2 separate regions of the Homo sapiens genome follow, and region 2 is linked to region 1. Evidence: fine-mapped expression QTL. A gene starts in region 1. The other region holds a variant in brackets. All regions are shown on one strand. Distances are between the middles of the regions. Region 1 holds the start of DAW1 (dynein assembly factor with WD repeats 1). Region 2 overlaps DAW1 (dynein assembly factor with WD repeats 1).

Evidence for each region.
Region 2: its variant is fine-mapped to the expression of DAW1 in fibroblasts (GTEx, PIP above 0.99).

What each region holds. Positions count from the first base shown.
Region 1 is chr2:227,866,353-227,875,949 of GRCh38, forward strand. It overlaps DAW1 (dynein assembly factor with WD repeats 1), which reads left to right and starts at 5,279. Exons shown (of 13, transcript NM_178821.3): 1 at 5,279-5,377. The coding sequence starts at 5,338. It also overlaps the pseudogene CRIPTOP2.
Region 2 is chr2:227,906,837-227,916,433 of GRCh38, forward strand. It overlaps DAW1 (dynein assembly factor with WD repeats 1), which reads left to right. Exons shown (of 13, transcript NM_178821.3): 10 at 302-416. Among named protein-coding and RNA genes, the nearest start is that of DAW1, 40 kb to the left of the region's middle. The variant A/G (reference allele first, on the strand shown) is at 5,386.

The sequences.
Region 1 (9,597 bases):
AGTCATCTCACTGAAGTTGGTTTTCTCCAGGAGAAGCTGAGCCAAATGGAATCCACCAAGCCCAGCCGCAGCCGGAAGCCCTACTCCTCCCTTACCTTGCCCAGCCTCAAAAATACAGAATCTGGATCCCCCGGACTGACTCCTTCTTCCTTCTCCTCCTCCTCCTCTTTCTCTCTCTCTCTCTATAAATATAAATATATATATGTATAGATATACTACATCCATATATATATATATATATTTTGAGACAGGTTCTGGCTCTGTCACCCAGGCTGGAGTGCAGTGGTGTGATCTCAGCTCACTGAACCACCGCCTCCTAGGCTCAAGCCATCCTCCCACCTCAGCCTCCTGAGTGGCTTGGACTACAGGTGAGTGCCACCACACTGGGCTAATTTTTGTACATTTTGTAGAGATGGGGTTTTTCCCTGTTGCCCAGGCTGGTCTCAAACTCCTGAGCTCAGGCAGTCTTCCTGCCTTGGCCTCCCAAAGCACTGTGATTACAGGCGTGAGCCACCAGAGCCACCATACATATTTTGATTTTAGAGACTACCTCCCTCCCCAACTCCCATCCTCCCAGGTACCTTCTGATTCTTCCCTCAGCCTGATGTCCACTGTCCTCTCTCAGTGCATTGGAGCATCTGAAACCCAATTATGTAGAAAATTCCAGCTTCTTCCCGTGTTGTTTCTGGTTCTCATTTACATTCGAGGATGTGGTTGAACAATCAATTTACTGTTCCTGACAATCAGGGAAGACTGCCTGGAATACACAGAAAGACCTGATCATTGGAGATGAAGCCCAATTTCACTCACTTCGTTCTGTCCAAGCCAGTGTAACCTATTAAGCTAGCACAGTGGCTCTCAAGCTTCATCATTCACTAGAATCACCAGGAAAGCACATTTAAACATGGGTTGTTGGACTTCACCATCAGTGTTTCTGATTCAGTAGGTCGGGACTCGGGGGAGGCGAAAATGTACATTGCTGATGAATTCCTAAGTGATACTGACCCTGCTGGTCCGGGAACCATGCTTGGAGAACTGAAGCCTAGAGTGACTTCACTGTATTAGCCTGGATTGGTTTAGGAGATTAAAATTACTGCTACTCATTATTTAGTTTCTGGTTGTTCAAGGCAGGTCCTGGTGGGAATGTCTTAGTTCAGGCTTCCATAACAAGTACCGTTGACTGGGTGGCTCACAAACAATAGAAACTTCTTCCTCACAGTTCTGGAGGCTGGAAGTCTGAGATCAGGGTGCCAGCATGCCCTTTTATTTTGAAATAAATCAGTATACTTTTCCTAAGAACAAGGACATTCTCTTACATAACCAGTACAATGATCAAAGTCAAGAAACTTAACACTGATAAAATACTATTATCTAAACCACAATCCCTATATACAGAGTTCATCCATTGTCTCAACGATGCCCTTTGTAAGTAATTATTATTCTGGTTCAGGATCTATCATCACTCAGTGCATTTAGTTGTCCTTTTTAGATTTATTTAATCTCAAGTATTTCTTTAGAGTTTTCTTTCCTTGACTGTCAACAGTTATTTTATACAATTTCCTCAGTTTGGTTTGCTCCGATGTTTCCTTATGATTTGAGTCAAGTAATTCATTTTGGGCAGGAATTCCAGAGAATTGCTGTTTTTTTTTGTTTATTGTTTTTTGTTTTTTTTTTTAACAGAGTCTTGCTCTGTTGCCAGGCTGCAGTGCAGTGGCACGATCTCGGCCCACTGCAACCTCCGACTCCCTGGTACAAGCAATTCTCCTGCCTCAGCCTCCAGAGTAGCTGAGATTACAGGCACGTTCCACCACGCCCAGCTAATTTTTGTATTTTTAGTAGAGATGCGGTTTCACCATGTTGGCCAGGATGGTCTCGATCTCCTGACCTTATGATCTGCCCACCTTGGCCTCCCAAAGTGCTGGGATTACAGGCATGAGCCACTGCACCCGGCTTTGCTGTGTTCTCTTCAGTGCATCGTAATACCAGGTAATATATGTCAGTTTGTCCCACTATTGGTGATGTCCTCCCTGACTCAAGTGATCCTTTCACCTCAGCCTCCTGAGTAGCTGGGACAATAGGGGCATGTACCACACCCAGCTAATTAATTTTTTTGTAGAGACCGGATCTTGCCTTGTTGCCTAGGCTGGTCTTGAACTCCTGGGTTCAAGCAATCCTCCTAACTTGGCCTCCCAAAGTGTTGGGATTATAGGTAAGAGCCACCGTGCCCCACCCAAAGATCACGTTTTAAATGGGTGCCCCACCCAAAGATCACATTTTAAATGGCATGAGCACAAGCAATAACATAGGTGACCAAAATCTACCAAAGACTTTCTCATTTCTATAGAGCAAACTCTTTGCCCCTCCCTCCATAAGTCCTTCCAGAGTGTCTTAGTGGCTAGGAGAAAGTTTGAGCTGGGAGAGAGCTTGGATTTCATACGGTTCCCTGTTTTCCAAGTATGGGATGCTTACTACTGGTGAGAAAAAGATGATTTTTTTTTTGCACATTTATATTGGGTTAAATTGTGTCACTTAGTAGCAAAGGCTTTGCCATCTCAACAATCTTTTCAATCTTCTGAACACATCAAGTAGGAAGGCTCAGTTGAGTGCTATTCCGTCTTGTAGCCTGTCTTAACAATCTCAAACAGTTGCTAATTTCCTTCCTTCCCTTCCTCCCTCCCTCCCTCCCTCTTTCTTTCCTTTCTTCCTTCCTTTGTTTACAAAGAAAGGGATGGTTTTGGGTTCAGAGTCTTTGGCAGTATATAGTAATTAGTATATAGTAATATAGTAATATATAGTAGTATATAGTAATTCAATGCCTTTAGGTCAATATATTTTCCATTTTTACTGTGCATACGCATATATACAATGTATTTTAAAAGTTGGCTTTACAATATGTAGTTTTATCATTTGGTTTACAACTAAATATATTGTGAACATTTTCTCTTCTACAACAGTTAAAAGAATTGCATAGCTTGGAGGAAACATAATTTATTAAGCAGTCTTGTTGGGGACATTGAGGTATAATTTTTTTTTTATAAGGAGACTTCATTCTTTTTACAACACCTTTGGGAAAAAAATTGGAGTCCTTGTCTCATATAGCTTTCTATAGATGACGGAAACTTACCCTTCCATTTAGCCTTTTAACTTTCTTCTCTACACCCACCTAATCACCATCAAGTAACCCATTTTATGTTTTCCAACCTCTCTCTCCCATTTGCTTCCTCTTTCCTACCCAGTCTCCCTGCATACATGCAGATGAACTTCCATTCCTTCAGCCCTCTGTTTCCTCCCCTTAAAGAGGCTTTCTTTCCATTTAAAGAGACTATTTTAATTGATTTTTATCAACTCTACTCAAAACTGTATCCTAAGGTCCACATTAGGATTGGTCTTTAATAATCTGAAGATAATATTCAATTGTTTAAAAGAACTTTTAAGAAGACCTTGGTAGAATTACATGTATCAAGAAACATGACTTAGGCACAATGGAGATATGGCTGACTTTCTTTTGAAAAAAGAAGTAGTTTTTGTGGGGAGGGCAGGGCAAAGAGGTAAGAAGTATTTGGTACTACAAGGAAATGTTAGAGACCATTTTGGAAATGTATTCATTATTTTAAGGCAACTAACAAATGATCATCTTTCAGTTAGGACATTATAGCAGCAGCCTTTACTGGTCATGAAATTTGAATGATATCTAAAATCATATTTCTGGAAATAGGTCAATGTCAATTAATAGTAACTTTGTATAGAAAGGCAGATGCCAGCTAGCATATAAAAGTGGTGCATGCAGACGGTGGTAGTTCTGGAGTCCTGGGAGCCATGAGGTGCTCATCCATCACAAGGCCATCACAGCCAGGTAGAAATGCCTGAGGAAAGCAGCGGAGCTGCCCGTGCCAGCATTTACACATGGAACACTTCTTGGGCAGCCGGGTGTCATGGGGCACAGACCCACAATTCTCTTTGCGTACACCGTGCTCACAGTTCCATCCATAGAAGGAGGGGAGGCAGGCACAAAAGGACCCCAGCATGCAGGTTCCCCCATTCAGGCAGCAGGTTCTGTTTGGCTCCTTACTGTCCTGTATCCCCATGGGGGGCACAAGCTGGGAAGACCGAGGACGAATTGCAGGCTCCTCCTGGGGCTGAATGCTGTCATCTCTGAAGGCCAGGTCTCCCTGAGATGGACGCACAAGTTCCCGATGGCTCAGCCTTTAACAAGCAATTCAACGCCTTTAAAAAATTGCCTTTACTTTTACAGTTACTGGCTGTTTACTGAAAATTTCATATAATTTTAAATTTAGAAATAAAAACTTCACAGATGGAATTAAATTTCATATAATTTTCAGTAAACAGCCAGTAACTGTAAAAGTAAAGGTAATTTTTAAGATTACATTTTACTAAGTGAAGTAAAATAAGTGAGTCAATCTAGAGACATTTTAAGAACTTAAAACTTAGGTATGGATCTCTGGAAGAGGTAAGGAGAGATATGGCTCATAGTTGCGCAGATAACACAGGAATGACTCAAGTTTGAGAAATTCCAGTTGAGGCCAAATTCCTTAAAGGAAATTGACAAGCTGGTTGGCTGACTCTGTCTCTCCGCAGGCTTTCTCATGGAAACGTGGCAGGCAAACAACGATGCTGGCAAGAAATTGGACAAGCCGCATGAAGGCCTGGAGAGTTTTAAGCCCAGGTTGAGAGCACAGGTGTAGGCTTTCTGGTGTAGGTTCCGACGCACCTGCCTTCCATTCCCGCCTATCCATTTAGGCTGCGACCTCTGGTAGTTCTCCACTTTCTCTAATTCTGAGTTACTTCATCCTTAAGAAGTGGTGCATAACTCACACCTTGTTAGGATTGTATGAGTATGTGTGCATACACCGTTTAAAGCAATGTAGGGCACAGAGTCAGGAAATGCAAAATATTAAGTTGAGGTCATTTTTCTTTTGGGAGGACAAGGACAGGGCACGGGCTGGGGCCCTAGAGTAGTAATTAGCGATGGGCTTTTCCTCCCAGCCTTCCTTTTGGGAAACGCAGTGTGCTAAAAAAGTGCATGCAGCCCAGGCTGTGGCCTAGGCCGTCGGTTCCCGGCCATGCCTAGCTCCTCTGAGGTCGCCCTTAGTGAGGACACGAGGTGCCCTCACCTCTTTCACTCTAGACACCTCCAGAACACTCGCCCCCCGCGCGCCGGAGCCCCGGGTCGCCACCAACCGCCCGCGGAGCCAGACCTCCCAGCTCTGCGCCCCAGGACCGCGCGGTGCAACCTGCGCATGCGCACCCGCGTCCCGCTGCTGTTTAGCCGTTTCCAAGGCTACGAAGCCCATCGGCCGGGGATAAGAGAGCAAGAAAATGAAGCTCAAGAGCCTCCTGCTCCGGTATTACCCGCCAGGTACGCACCAGCCCGGCCCCGTCATCCCCACGTGGGACCCTGGGCTCCCAGACTGGGAGGGTTTGGGGCGGAGGAGGGCGCAGCCACTGAAAGGCGGCGGGGTCCCCAGGTGGGGCAGGAAGTCGGGCACTTCCCAACCTGTGCCCCTCATTCCTTCAGATGCTGGACTCTTCCTCAAAACATTAACAATTACTCTTTTAGGAATTTAAAGAGTTTAGCTTGACTGTGCATGTCAGTCTGTCTGCATTTATTGAGTGCCTACTGCGTACACGCTTTGTGCTCTCTGCTATGGACCTTTAAAGAAGTTCATAGTGCTTGATTTCAATGAGTGAAGTAATTATGAAATAAATTACTTAACTATTACTTAGTAACATAAGCAATACATTAATTACCTAATCCTTGCCTAACTCTAATTTTAGGTGAGGACATGGTCACCTTTAAAGAATAAGTGACACCCATTGATCACCCAGCTTCTTAGGGACAGAAATAGGAGTGCAATTCTTGGGTTCTAATTCAGAACTCGTCTTCTGAATTAGAAACATCTGCAAAAAAAAAAAAAAAAAGAAAAAAAAGAAAAAAATCTGCAAAACATACCACAAGGCAGAAGATAACCAAATACACTTGCCCAATGAAGTTTGGATAGGAAGTGTCATAAAGATTTCAAAGGAGGGTAAGATACTTTGGACCGGTTTTGTTAAGAATAGCTTTATGAGGGGTGGGACTTGAATTTCAGGTTGAATATCTCACTTTTCCCTGCAACACATCCAACTGCTTGGTCAACATCGCCGATGAGGTATCGCATAGAGATCTCATGATTTCTTTTTTCCAGTCCCATCCCAATCCTGCTGCTTCCTCAAACTGTGCCCTGCCAGTAGAAGGCATCATCACCCAGCCTGTTTTTTGCCAGAAACCTAGGTGGTCACTTTTTGTTTCTCTCCTGTGATCATTCACTGCCTCCCCCACCCCCCCAACCCCCGGCATTCCGTTATCATTCTGCCAGCTCTAAGTCCAAAATATTCTGTGAATCCATCAGATTATCCCTCTTTCCATAGCACAGATTTCTTGGTCTAACATCCCTTCCAGCTGCCAACCTAGTCCAACCCTCCATTCCAGCCACCATTCCCTTTGGCTGAGCCACTCCAGTGGCTTTTCAACTGGATTCCTGGTTTTCACCCTCATCTCCTACAATCCATCTGCCACTAGGAGCCAGTGGGATCTGAATTCAAGATCTCCAATAGCTTCCTATCATGCTTAGAATACGATCCGCAACCTGTGGGATTTGGCTCATTCTGTGCTGCTGACTTCTAAAACTTCACTTGTCTACCCTCACTATACTTCTGACTTCTTTAGCTTGTTCTTCTAAGACTTAAGAGAGGGCCTTTCACTCATTCGTTTTTTGGACCCAGCTTTCCCTAGAGCTAGGAAAAGCTGCTTCCTTTTCTTCATTCAGTTTCAATCAATGTCAACCACCTGAAGAGACTTTCCTACCTATTCAAAGTAGCCTGCACTGATTTTACTCTATGCCATAAAGTGCTTAAAAATTATATTTGTCATCATCCAAAACTCTACTTGTTTTGTTTCAAATGTCTGCCCCTTTCCCATTTAATGTAAACTTCGTGAGAACTAAGATCTTAGTGTGGTTTGATCATTGTAGCACCCTCAGCTTCTAGAAGAGATTTGGTGACACAGAAGATCAGGAATGTTTGTTGAATGAATGTATGGATAAATGGATGTGTTTGATGAGAGGTCAGGTATGGAAATTACTGAAAATAAACACTGAAAATCTTAAGGGATGCTGCTTCTGCCTCCCTGGAAGACCGATCCTGGACAGCTACTTTCTCCAATGGGAAGTTGACATTTGTAGAAAAGACATGCATTTTCTCCTTCATAGAATTCCAGTTAAAATAATATGAGAAAGCTATATATATGACAGTATCTAGATAAATTTATTTTATGTAATTAATTAATTAATTTAATTTTTGAGACAGAGTCTTGCTCTGTCACCCAGGTTGGAGTGCAGTGGTGCAATCCAACTCCACCTCTTGGATTCAAATGATTCTCATCCCTTAGCCTCCCAGGTAGCTGGAATCACAGGTGTGCACTACCAAGCCCAGCTAATTTTTGTATTTTTAGCAGAGACGGGGTTTCACCATGTTGGCCAGGCTGGTCTTGAATTCCTCACCTCAAGTGATCCACCTGTCTTGGACTCCCAAAGTGCTGGGATTACAGATGTGAGCCACTGCATCAGGCTGAGAGTATCTACGAAATTTAAATTAGGCATAGGTAGATAGTATATAGAAAATTTAAAATTAAGACTAATAGTCTGTTTCCTTTAAGTATTCCATAATTTTCTTTTGGCTCTTTTTGCCCATAGGCCTGTGCTGGTTCCCATAGATGTACCAATAAATGAAGCTCTTGCTTTCATCTCTTTGTTGTGGAGTGTAGGTTAAGAATATGAGCTCTGGGTTCAGAATAACGGCTTCTCACCATATACAATAATAAAAAAACTTGGGCAATTTGTTTTATTCTATCAAAGCATGGGTACATGGTGACAACAGCACCACTTCACAGGTCTACTAGACCCTTCCAGCTTCTTATCTTATTTGATTCTTTCTCTTCAGAGTAGAGAAAATTTTTGGAAGAATACTCTCCCCAAGTGCTGTCCTCCCTTCCTATCATGTTTTCACGCGGATTGCCCCACTGAAACTGCCCACTTTAAGATCTCCAATGACATTCACATTGCTAATCTACTGGCCAAGCCACAGTCCTTGCCTGCCTTGACCTGACAGCAGCATTCAACCACTCTGCTTTTCTTTGGCTTCCAGGACACATATTCTATTTTCCTTCCTGTCTCACGTCACTTCTTCTGTGTCTATCTTGTTGGTTCCTCTTCTTCTTTTTGATTATTTAATGTTGGAGTGCCCCAGAGCCCCAACCTTGGATTTCTCCTTTCTATCTACACTCATACACTATGCAATCTCATCCATTCTCAAGGCTTAAAAACTATCCTGAACTGAGGTCAGGAGTTCGAGACCAGCCTGCCCAACATGGTGAAACCCCGTCTCTACTAAAAATACAAAACAATTAGCCAGGTGTGGTGGTGCGGGTCTGTAATCCCAGCTACTCAGGAGGCTGAGGCAGGAGAATCGCTTGAATCTGGGAGGTGGAGGTTGCAGTGAGCCAAGATCACACCAATGCACTCCAGCCTGGGTGCCAGAGCAAGACTCTGTCTCAAAACAAACAAACAAACAAACAAACAGAAAAACAAAAAACAAACCATCCCGCATAGTCCTGAGTACCTGAGTGCCCACCCGACACATTCATTTGAATGTCCACCGTACATCTCATGTGGGGGTCTCCCATGGTCTTCCCCATCTCAGCAAATTGCAGCTCCATTTCTCCACTTACTCATGCCAAACATTTTGGACTCTTCCTTGTCTCTCTCTCATCTCCACATCCACTAACAAATCCTGCTAGTCCTGCCTCCAAAATATATGCAGAATCCAACAATTTCTACTACCTGACCACTACCATTCTTTTTAGCTTGAAAGCTTCCTTCCACCCTTGCCCCTCTTCAGTCTATATGGCAATGGGATGGCTCTGTTAGAACATAAATATGACCATGTCACTCTTCTGCTCCAGCCCTCCAATGACTTCTCAGCTCGTTTAAAGTAAAAGGACCATGATCCCCAAGGCCCTGCAAAATCTCACCCCCTGTTGCTTCCCTGACCTCACCACTTTCGACTTTTCCCTCCAGCAACACTCCTCTCCTTGGTGTTCCTTGAATGGGGCAGAGGTGTCCCCACCCAGGGTCTGCAGTTGGTGTTCTTTCTGCCTCGAATAATCTACCCATGGACATTTGTATCACTAGTGCCCCATATTTTTAAAGTCTTTCCTCAAAATTGTGTAAAGTGAAGACTTAGATATCTCCTTTCTGAGCATTTCTATCTTCTTCCCATGATATTTCACAGCCCCTTTCCCTGGTTTGTCTTTTCTCCTTGGGGCTATCTTAATCCAACTCATCATTGTTTCACTCATTTATTTTGCTTATTCTTTCCCACGAGAATAAAAGATTGACGAAGGCAGGAACTTTGTCTATTTTGTTTGCTCCTTATCTCTAGCACCCAGAGGAGAGCCTGGTGCATAAAATGACATTAATGTTTTTGTTGAATAAGTGAGTTTAATGAGATGATGTGTGTTAAGCAGAATGCCTCAAACTC
Region 2 (9,597 bases), 40 kb after region 1:
TCTTCACCAACCAGTAAAGCATACACGTTGAGATATTTTTTCTTTCTTTAATGTAGTGGCAGATTCTAAATGTCTGACTTTGGTTTTCTCTGTGACTAGAGTGTGCCTTGCTTGATGGTTGGCTGTGGTCTCTGGTCATGAATCAAAGTAAATCTAACTGAACATGCATGAATTACACAAGTGATTTTTGCACAGTTATTTAACCAGCCATAAGCATGTCATGAAGACCACTGGCCATCTTCACACTTCAGACAGAAAGTCATAGTCTTTTTTTTTTTGTTTTTTGTTCTTTTAATTGTAGCTGTGGGATGCTACAAATGGAAAATGTGTGGCAACCTTAACAGGCCATGATGATGAAATACTAGACAGCTGCTTTGATTACACTGGAAAGCTTATTGCAACTGCTTCAGCTGATGGTAGGTGATCTGTTCATTCTTTTAATTTTTGGAGAGATTTATGCTTTGCTTGATAACCATGCATAATTCTACACTATGGGTCATTTCTTTGATGACCAGCTATGATAAAAAACCATGTCTCATCTCTATCGTGACCATGTATGGCACAATAGTGTGTCTATATCATATACCTGATAACCACATGTAATGTTATGCAATGTCTGTGTCACCTCCTACATAACGAGGTATATGAGGTCTTTGTCATCTTCTTAATATCTGTATATGATGCTATATTCTGGGTCATCTCCCTGATTTTTATTATTATTATTATTTTGAGATGGAGTCTCACTCTGTTGCCCAGGCTGCAGTGCAGTGGTGCGATCTCGGCTCAACGCAACCTCCGCCTCCCAGGCTCAAGTAATTTTCCTGCCTCAGCCTCCCGAGTAGCTGGGAATACAGGCATGCACCACCATGCCTGGCTAATTTTTGTATTTTTAGTAGAGACGGGGTTTCTCCATGTTGGCCAGGCTGGTCTCGAACTCCTGACCTCAGATGATCCACCTGCCTTGGCCTCCCAAAATGCTGGGATTACAGGCGTGAGCCACCGTGCCCAGCTTCCCTGATGATTACATATGATGTTACCCTATGTTGGCCTTGTCAACTTAATTACCATCAATGGTGCTATAATCTCCTTTACTATAACCACATGTGCTGTTCCGCTATGTCTACTGCATCTTTGTGATAAGCATACATGATGCTATGCTATACATTGTCTCTTTGATTACCACTGTGATTCTACACTATGTGTCATCTTATTGATAACCATATATAGTGCTATCCTAGGTGTGCTTCAATCCTGTGACAGTCACATGTGACACTACACTATATCTGTCATCTCCCTGTTGCTCACATGTGACATGATATTGTGTCTGTCTTATCGCCTAAGGATCATGTTTATTTCTACACTGTATCTGCATCATCTTGTTGAAAGTTGCATATTATGCTATACTGTGTTTTCATCTACTCCTTTAAAACCACATTTGATGCTGGGCCATATCTGCATCATATCCTTGATAATCATATATGATGCAAAACCATGATCATCTTGCTGACAAATATGTATGATACTAACACTCTGTCCACGTCATCTCGTTGAAGCCACATGCAATGCTATATGATGTTTTTATTATCTCAGTGACGACCATCTGTGTTGGTGTACTATGCATGCATCATGTCCTGGATAACATTTTATGATACTGAACAACAAGTCATTCCCATGACAACCATATATGATGTTATATTATGTGTCATCTCTTTGACAAACATATGTGATGATTCATTGTGTCTGCACTATTTCCCTGGCAAGTATTTATGATGCTACTCTATGTCTGCAGCATATTCCTGAAAAACATGTGTTAACACTATACAATTTCTACATTATCTCCCTGACAATTTCCTATTTTACACTAAACTATGTCTACACCATATCCTTGATAACCACATGGTACTATACTATGTCTCCATCATCCTATGTCTCCTTGGCAAGCATATGTGATGCTATACTAAGTCTATGTCATATCGACATCACATACCATGCGTGATGCTATTCTGTGAGGCATAGAATTTGAAGTATGAACTATGTGTCATCTTCCTGAAGATACAGATGATGCTAAACTACATCGATACCATCTACCTGATGACCACGTGTGAAGCTACACCAAGTCTGTTATCTATCTGATGACCACATATGATGCTATATTGTATCTATGTCATGTATCTGACTATGTTTAATTTACACTGTTTTTATCCTCTTTATAATAATGTATGATACTATACTGTATCTTTATCCAATTATTTATAACCATATATGATACTATTCCATATCTTAGTATTTCTTAGAAATCCATGTATGATGCTATAGTATTTATACCTCATTGCCCTGGCCAACATGTCTGCAGGGTCCACTATATCACATCACCACCTTTAGAAAGGTGGTGATATTATCTATCTATCTATCTATCTATCTATCTATCTATCTATCTGTCTGTCTGTCTGTCTCCTATTGGTTCTGTTTTATACTATATATAATTTTATGTATTTTTTATATTATATATTTGTACATTTTTATATATTATATATTTATATGTATTACACTATATATACTATGTATATAATTCTGTTTATAGTATATATAGTATATAACCAATAGTATATAAATACACACACACATATATATAGTATATAACCAATATTATATAAGTATACACACACACATATTTATATATGAAGGCTGAGAAGTCTTGCCATATGCCATCTGCAAGCTGGAGAATCAGGAAAGTCAGTGGTATAATTCAGTGTAAGTCTGAAAACCTAAAAACTTGGGGGGACCAATGGTGTAACTCTTAGTCTGAGGCCAAAAACTTGAGAGAACTGAGGAGGGCACTGGTGTCAGTCTTGGAGTCTGGGGATCTGAGAACCAGAAGCTCGATGACCGAGGGCCAGAGAAGATGGATGTCCCAGCTCCAGAAGAGAGAATTTCATCCTTCCTCCACCTTTTGTTGTATCTGGGTCCTCAATGGATTGGATGATGCCTGCCCACATTGGTGAGGGTGGCTCTTATTTACTCAGTCTAACATCCTCACAGACACACCCAGAAACAATGTTTTACCAGCCACGTGGGTATCCCTTAACACAGTCAAGTTGACACATAAAATTAACCATCACAATGCCGCACTGTGTGTGTATATCCTGTTACCCACATATGACATTATACTACATCTGCATCATCTCCCTGACAACCAAATACAACATCGTGATGTTTCTGAGGTATCCTAAAACATGTGTTATGCGTACCTTATTCTTTGATAGTCATATATGATATTGTACTATGACAATTTCCTTGATGATCATGTATGATGCTATATAATATATGCATCATGGCCAGGTGTGGTGGCTCATGCCTGTTATTTCAACACTTCGGGAGGCCAAGATTGGAGGATCGCTTGAGGCCAGGAGTTTGAGATGAGCCTGGGCAACATAGTGAGACCCCATCTCTACAAAATTAAACAAAAATTAGCTAATTAAAACAAAAATTAGTCAGGTGTGGTGGCATGCACCTGTAGACCTAACTACTCAGTAAGCTGAGGAAAATAACCTGAGCCCAGGAGGAGTTCAAGGTTACAGCGAACTATGATTATGCCACTATAATCCAGTCTGAGTGACAGAGTGAGACCCCATCTTCTTGATGAATATATTTGTGGATGAACACACACACACACACACACACACACACACCCCTCATATTCTAGACAGCCATATGTGGTGTTACATTATTTGAAATGTATTGGACAATGATGTGTGATGTTATATTATTACTATATCACCCCTTTAACAACCCCATAAGATGCTATATGTTACTTTATACTATTTCGGCATCATATTCATAATAACCATTTATTACACTAGGCTACAATTAATCTCCAGGACCTACAAATATGATACTACACTATGTCCATGCCATTTGGAAAACAGGGTATGATGATACAATATTTTTGCATCATTTCCCTGACTACTATTTATGATGCTGCAGTATGTCTGCTTCATTTTCATGATAAGCACCTGTGACATTACAACATATCTGTGTCGAATCCATGGTATCTTCATATGACACAAAATTATGTGTCATCACCCAGATACTTTTTTTCTGCATCCAATCATCCATGAGACCCTGATGTCTTGTATGAAACTATGCTATGTGTCATCTCCCTGATAACATATAACACCGCCCTATATCTGCATTATCTCTCTGACAACCTAAGTAAGCTTATACTATTTTTTGAGCCATATCCTTGACAATTGTATATGAAGCTATACTATGTCTCATCATGTTTTTGGCAATGGATGAAACTATACTATGCTTGCATATATTTAAGAATCATGTATAGTTATATATATATGTATACACATACATATATATGTGTATATATACATACATATGTGTATATATACATATATACATATATACACGTGTATATACACATATACACGTGTATATATACATATATACACGTGTATGTATAAGCATATATACATATATACATGTGTATATATACACATGTGTATATATAAAATTATACATGATTATATATATTATATATATATTACATTCTGAGATATTGTGAATTAGGACTTCAACATATGAATTTTAAAAGGACACAATTCAGCATATAATAGCACATATGACATACTGTGTGTTTGCTGCTTCTGCCTGACAACTGCATATTATTTTATGTTTTTATCATCTTCTTGAAACCACTTATATTACACTGTAACTTCATCATGCCCTATACAAAGGGCTGTGCTATACCTTATGGGTGACATGGCCTAGTTATTTAAGGATGATGCTATAATATATTTACTTTGTCTCCCTGATGATCATTTTATTTGTAAGAACATGTTTTCATCCTCTCCTTGGCAACAACTTATAATTTCTCCACTATGTCTGTGTCATTGCCTTGATAACCACATGTACTTTCTGTATCATCTTTCTGACTACCACATATGATGCTGTATAACGTATGTGTTATATCCCTGATATCCACATGTGATGCTATCTTATCTCTTACCTCTCTTTAGGACCTTTATGAGATTACACTATGTCTACATCATCTCCCTGATGACCACAAATGGCAGCTACATTACATATGTGCCATCTCTCTGACACTTATGCCCCTATACTATCTGATTCATCTTTCTCATGACCATATATCCTGCTTCACTATGTATAGATCCTTTCATGACAACAATATTTGGCTCTGTGCTGTGTCTGTGTGTCTATACTGTGCTACGCTATGCTCTACTCTTCTATGCCATACCATACCATACTATACTGACTTATGTGTGTACATTGTCTTTTCTGGAACCAAGTATAATGTTACATTCTGCCTCATCTCCATGGTCAACATGTATGATGTTATGCTATATCTATGTC[A/G]CCTTCTTTCTCTTTTTCTTTTTTTCTTTGAGATGGAGTCTCGCTCTGTCGCCCAGGCTGGAGTGCAGTGGCACGATCTTGGCTCACTGCAACCTGCGCCTCCCAGGTTCAAGCGATTCTCCTGCCTCAGCCGCCCGAGTTATGTCACGTTCTTGGTAATCATGTTTGATGTTATCCGGTGTGTTCATCTCTTTGATCACTGGACGTGATGCTAAACTATGCCTGTGTCATCTGCTGTCAACAATATGGTATGCTACATGCTGTGTTCCTTATCTTCTTGATGATCATATATAATGCTGCACTGTCTAGTATGTCTGTTTCATATCACTGGAGGTCTGGACATTGCTACACTTTGTGTTTGTCATCTCAGTGATGACCGCCTATTCTGCTTCATTTGTATTCTTCATTTCCTTGAAAACAAAAATGTTTCCCTATGTCTGTGTCACCTTGTTGAAAACCATACATAAGCTATACTGCTGTCATCCCCTACCTGTTAATCATGTAGGATGGCATATTCTGGGTTATCTCCTTGATGATCATATAAAAAGCTGCCATGTGTCTGCAATGATAAACATGATAATTGTGGATTGTGCTCTCATACGTTTGCATCTGTATGTCTTAGACAACTATGTATGCTACACTATCACTCCAAATTTCCTTGGCAACCATATATGATGCCACATTTTGGGTCCTATCACTGATGGTCATGTTTGATGCCCCATCCTTGACAGCTATATGTTGTACAATATTATCACTGCTTATAGCATCATAAATGTTACAAAGGAGCTTGAACATTTGGCAAGCATGTATATTGCTAAACTATTTCTCTGTCATCTCCTTTACAATCGCAATCATGTATGAGTCTGTACTATATCTGAATCATCTCCTAGATAACAAAGTGACATGCAATTTTAGGATTCATCTTTCAGAACCTCGCATGAGAAGATCATCTTCTTGATGATGATTTGTGACACTATCCTTTGTTTGGGTCTTGATATCACCACATATTGTGTTAAAACATGACTACATAATATCCTTCATATCGACATGTGATGTTATATTATGTGTACTTCATTTCCTTAATAACTATAGATGATATACTAAGTTACCGCCTTTATAACCATGTGTTATATCTCCCTATTTCTGAGTCATCACCTTGATAACCACATGTGACATTATACTGTGTGTTTCATCATGTTGAAAATCACAGATAATGCTTTTCTCCTTGATAACCACATATGATGCCTGATATTTATATGGACCAGCTCCTTTGTGACATTTATGATGCCATAATATAGGTTATTTCCATGAGGAAAACCCACAGTGCTGCATTCATGCATGTCGTCTCCTTGATATTCATGTATAATGCTATCCTATGTGCCATTTTAAAATTCCCATATGTGATGGTACTCTACATGCACATCATCCCACTGATAACCATGTGATACTATACATGTGTCATCTCCTTGGCACTGTGTATGGTTCTAAAATCAATCTTTGTAGAATCCTTGTACACCACATATATCCCTGTACTATGCATATGTCATGCTCTTTATGGCCACTGAGATGCTACAGTGTCTCTGTCATCTCCCTGATCATCATGTATGACATTACAACATGTCTACACCTTCTGCCAGAAGACAGTCATCATATCTATCTATCTGTCTGTCTGTCTGTCTGTCTGTCTGTCTGTCTGTCTATCTATCTTCATCATCATCATCATCATCATCTATCTAATCTATTGAGAGAGAGAGTCATATATCTGTATCTCTCTCTCTCTCTCTCTCTCTTTCTTTACATTAGGTCTATTCATGTTCCTAAAGGCCTTTATAATGCAACAATATTTCTGTGGCATTTCTTTGATAAACACATAGGACCTCACATCACATCTGTGTCTACCTCATTTGTTTGATAACCGTGAGTGATGCTGTACTATGTCTGCACCACCTCCTTGATAAACAAATATGGTGCTATACTGTGTCTTCATCATCTATGATCCTGTACTGAGGATTATCTTATATTTTGGGTCATTTCTCTGACCATAATGTATGATGCTACAATATGTCTGCATCTTAAACTTGATAACCGTGGCTGGTGCTATAATACTATATGCACCATCTCCTTGATAACCACCTATGATGCTATACTATGTATACCAAATCTCCTTTACAACCATTGATGATCTATGTTATTTGTCATAAGTAGTGATCTATGTTACTTGTCATAAATAGTGATTACTACTTATGATTCTACGCTGAGCCATCATATTGATATCCATATGTGATGCCACTCTGTGTCATCTCTTTGGAAACCATGTATGATGCTACACTCTGTGCACCTTATATCCAAGAAGATTACATATGACGTTACACTAGATTATGTCATCCCCCTTATGCCCACATTTGGCATTGTATTGTCTGCCTCATCTCACTGATGATCACTTATGAGGATACATGATGTCTACTTCACTGTCTGCATTAACATGTATTGTGCTACATCTTATCAGGGTCATCACCTTGAAAACCACCTATGATGCTACATGTTTTCATCACCATCTTGAAATTTATGTTGGAATCAATATGATATCTGTCTTAGATAATGTCGTACTAATATATGTCATCCTTTTAATCACATGATATGTTTACATCATTGATAATCATATATAATTCTAGGCTATAGGCCACCATGACAACTACATGTCATGCTATACTATGTCTGTATCATCTTTTAACATACTACATATATTGGTACATTATGACTTTTTCACCTCCTTGAGAGCCATGTATGATACTGCTGTACTATGGCTAAACTCCCTGATGACAGTGATGCTACATAATGTCTGCATCATACCCTTGACAAAAACATATGGTGCCACACTCTGTCTGCATCATAATTTTATTAAGTATGTGTTATGGTATAGTATTACTGCAGCACACTTTGATAAATATATGATGCTCTGCTTTTATTCATGTTGTGTAGTGATGTAAACTATATCTTCATCCTTTACTTGATGATGATATATGATGCTATACTATGATTTTATTATTTCCACAATATTCTCAAATGACAATCTATTATGGGTCATCTTTTTGATGGTAATGTATGGTGTTACTCTATGTATGTGTCATCACTTGTGTGTCATCAACTTAAGTACTATGTATATGCTATTCTATATTTGCCTCTTTTTCTTGATATCCATAAAGTATGCTATTTTATGGGTCAGTTTCCTAATGACCATGTTTGATGCTGGAAGATGTCTGCATTATCTCTTTGAACACCAAGTGGGATTAATACTATAACTATGTCTTTTCTGCAATGACCCTGTGTGATGCTAAACTATTTCTGTGACACCTCCTTGACAATAACCTCTGATAATCATCTCCTTGAGAATGATGTGTGATGCTGTAACATACCCTGTCTGTAGTAAATCCTATGGTACTAGACTCTGTTTTGGTCTTCTTAATAACACTGAATATATGTACTATGTTTCATCTCACTACTCCCATTTATTGTGCTAAAATATAATTGTCTCTGTCAGCCATATGTGATGCTATCTTATGTGTCATATCCTTAATAGCCATATATAATGCTACACTGTATCTACTTCCTCTTCTTGATAACCACATCAATGTTATACTATTGTCTATATCATGTCCTTGAAAATTCCTTATGATATTATGCCGTAGTTCATCTCATTTAGGACAATTTATAATGCTACAATGTTTGTGCCATCACCTTGAAAGTTACATATGATTATACATTATTTCTGCATATTTTCATGATAGCTATTTTATCAGTCACATATTTCTAATAAACATCTGTGGCATTTAAATCTTTGTGATTTCCCTGATAACCATGTATGATGCAACATTATGTCTTCATTGTCTTATTGAGACCCTGTATGACTATTACCCTGAAAATAATGTACTGCTACACTATATCTAATATGTAATCATCTCCTTGACAACCACTTATGGTTATATGCTATGTCTGCATTGTTTTTAACAGCAGTACATTAATTTATACTATGTTTACATCAATTTAAAAATACTTATGCATGATATTATGAGTAATCTCACTGATGACAGTATTTGATGCTGCAAGATATCTGTGTTATCACCTTGACAACTATATATGGTGCCACACTATATGTGCAAAATCTGCTTGAGAAGTACATATGATGCTGTTATGACTGCGTTGTCTCTTTGGTAA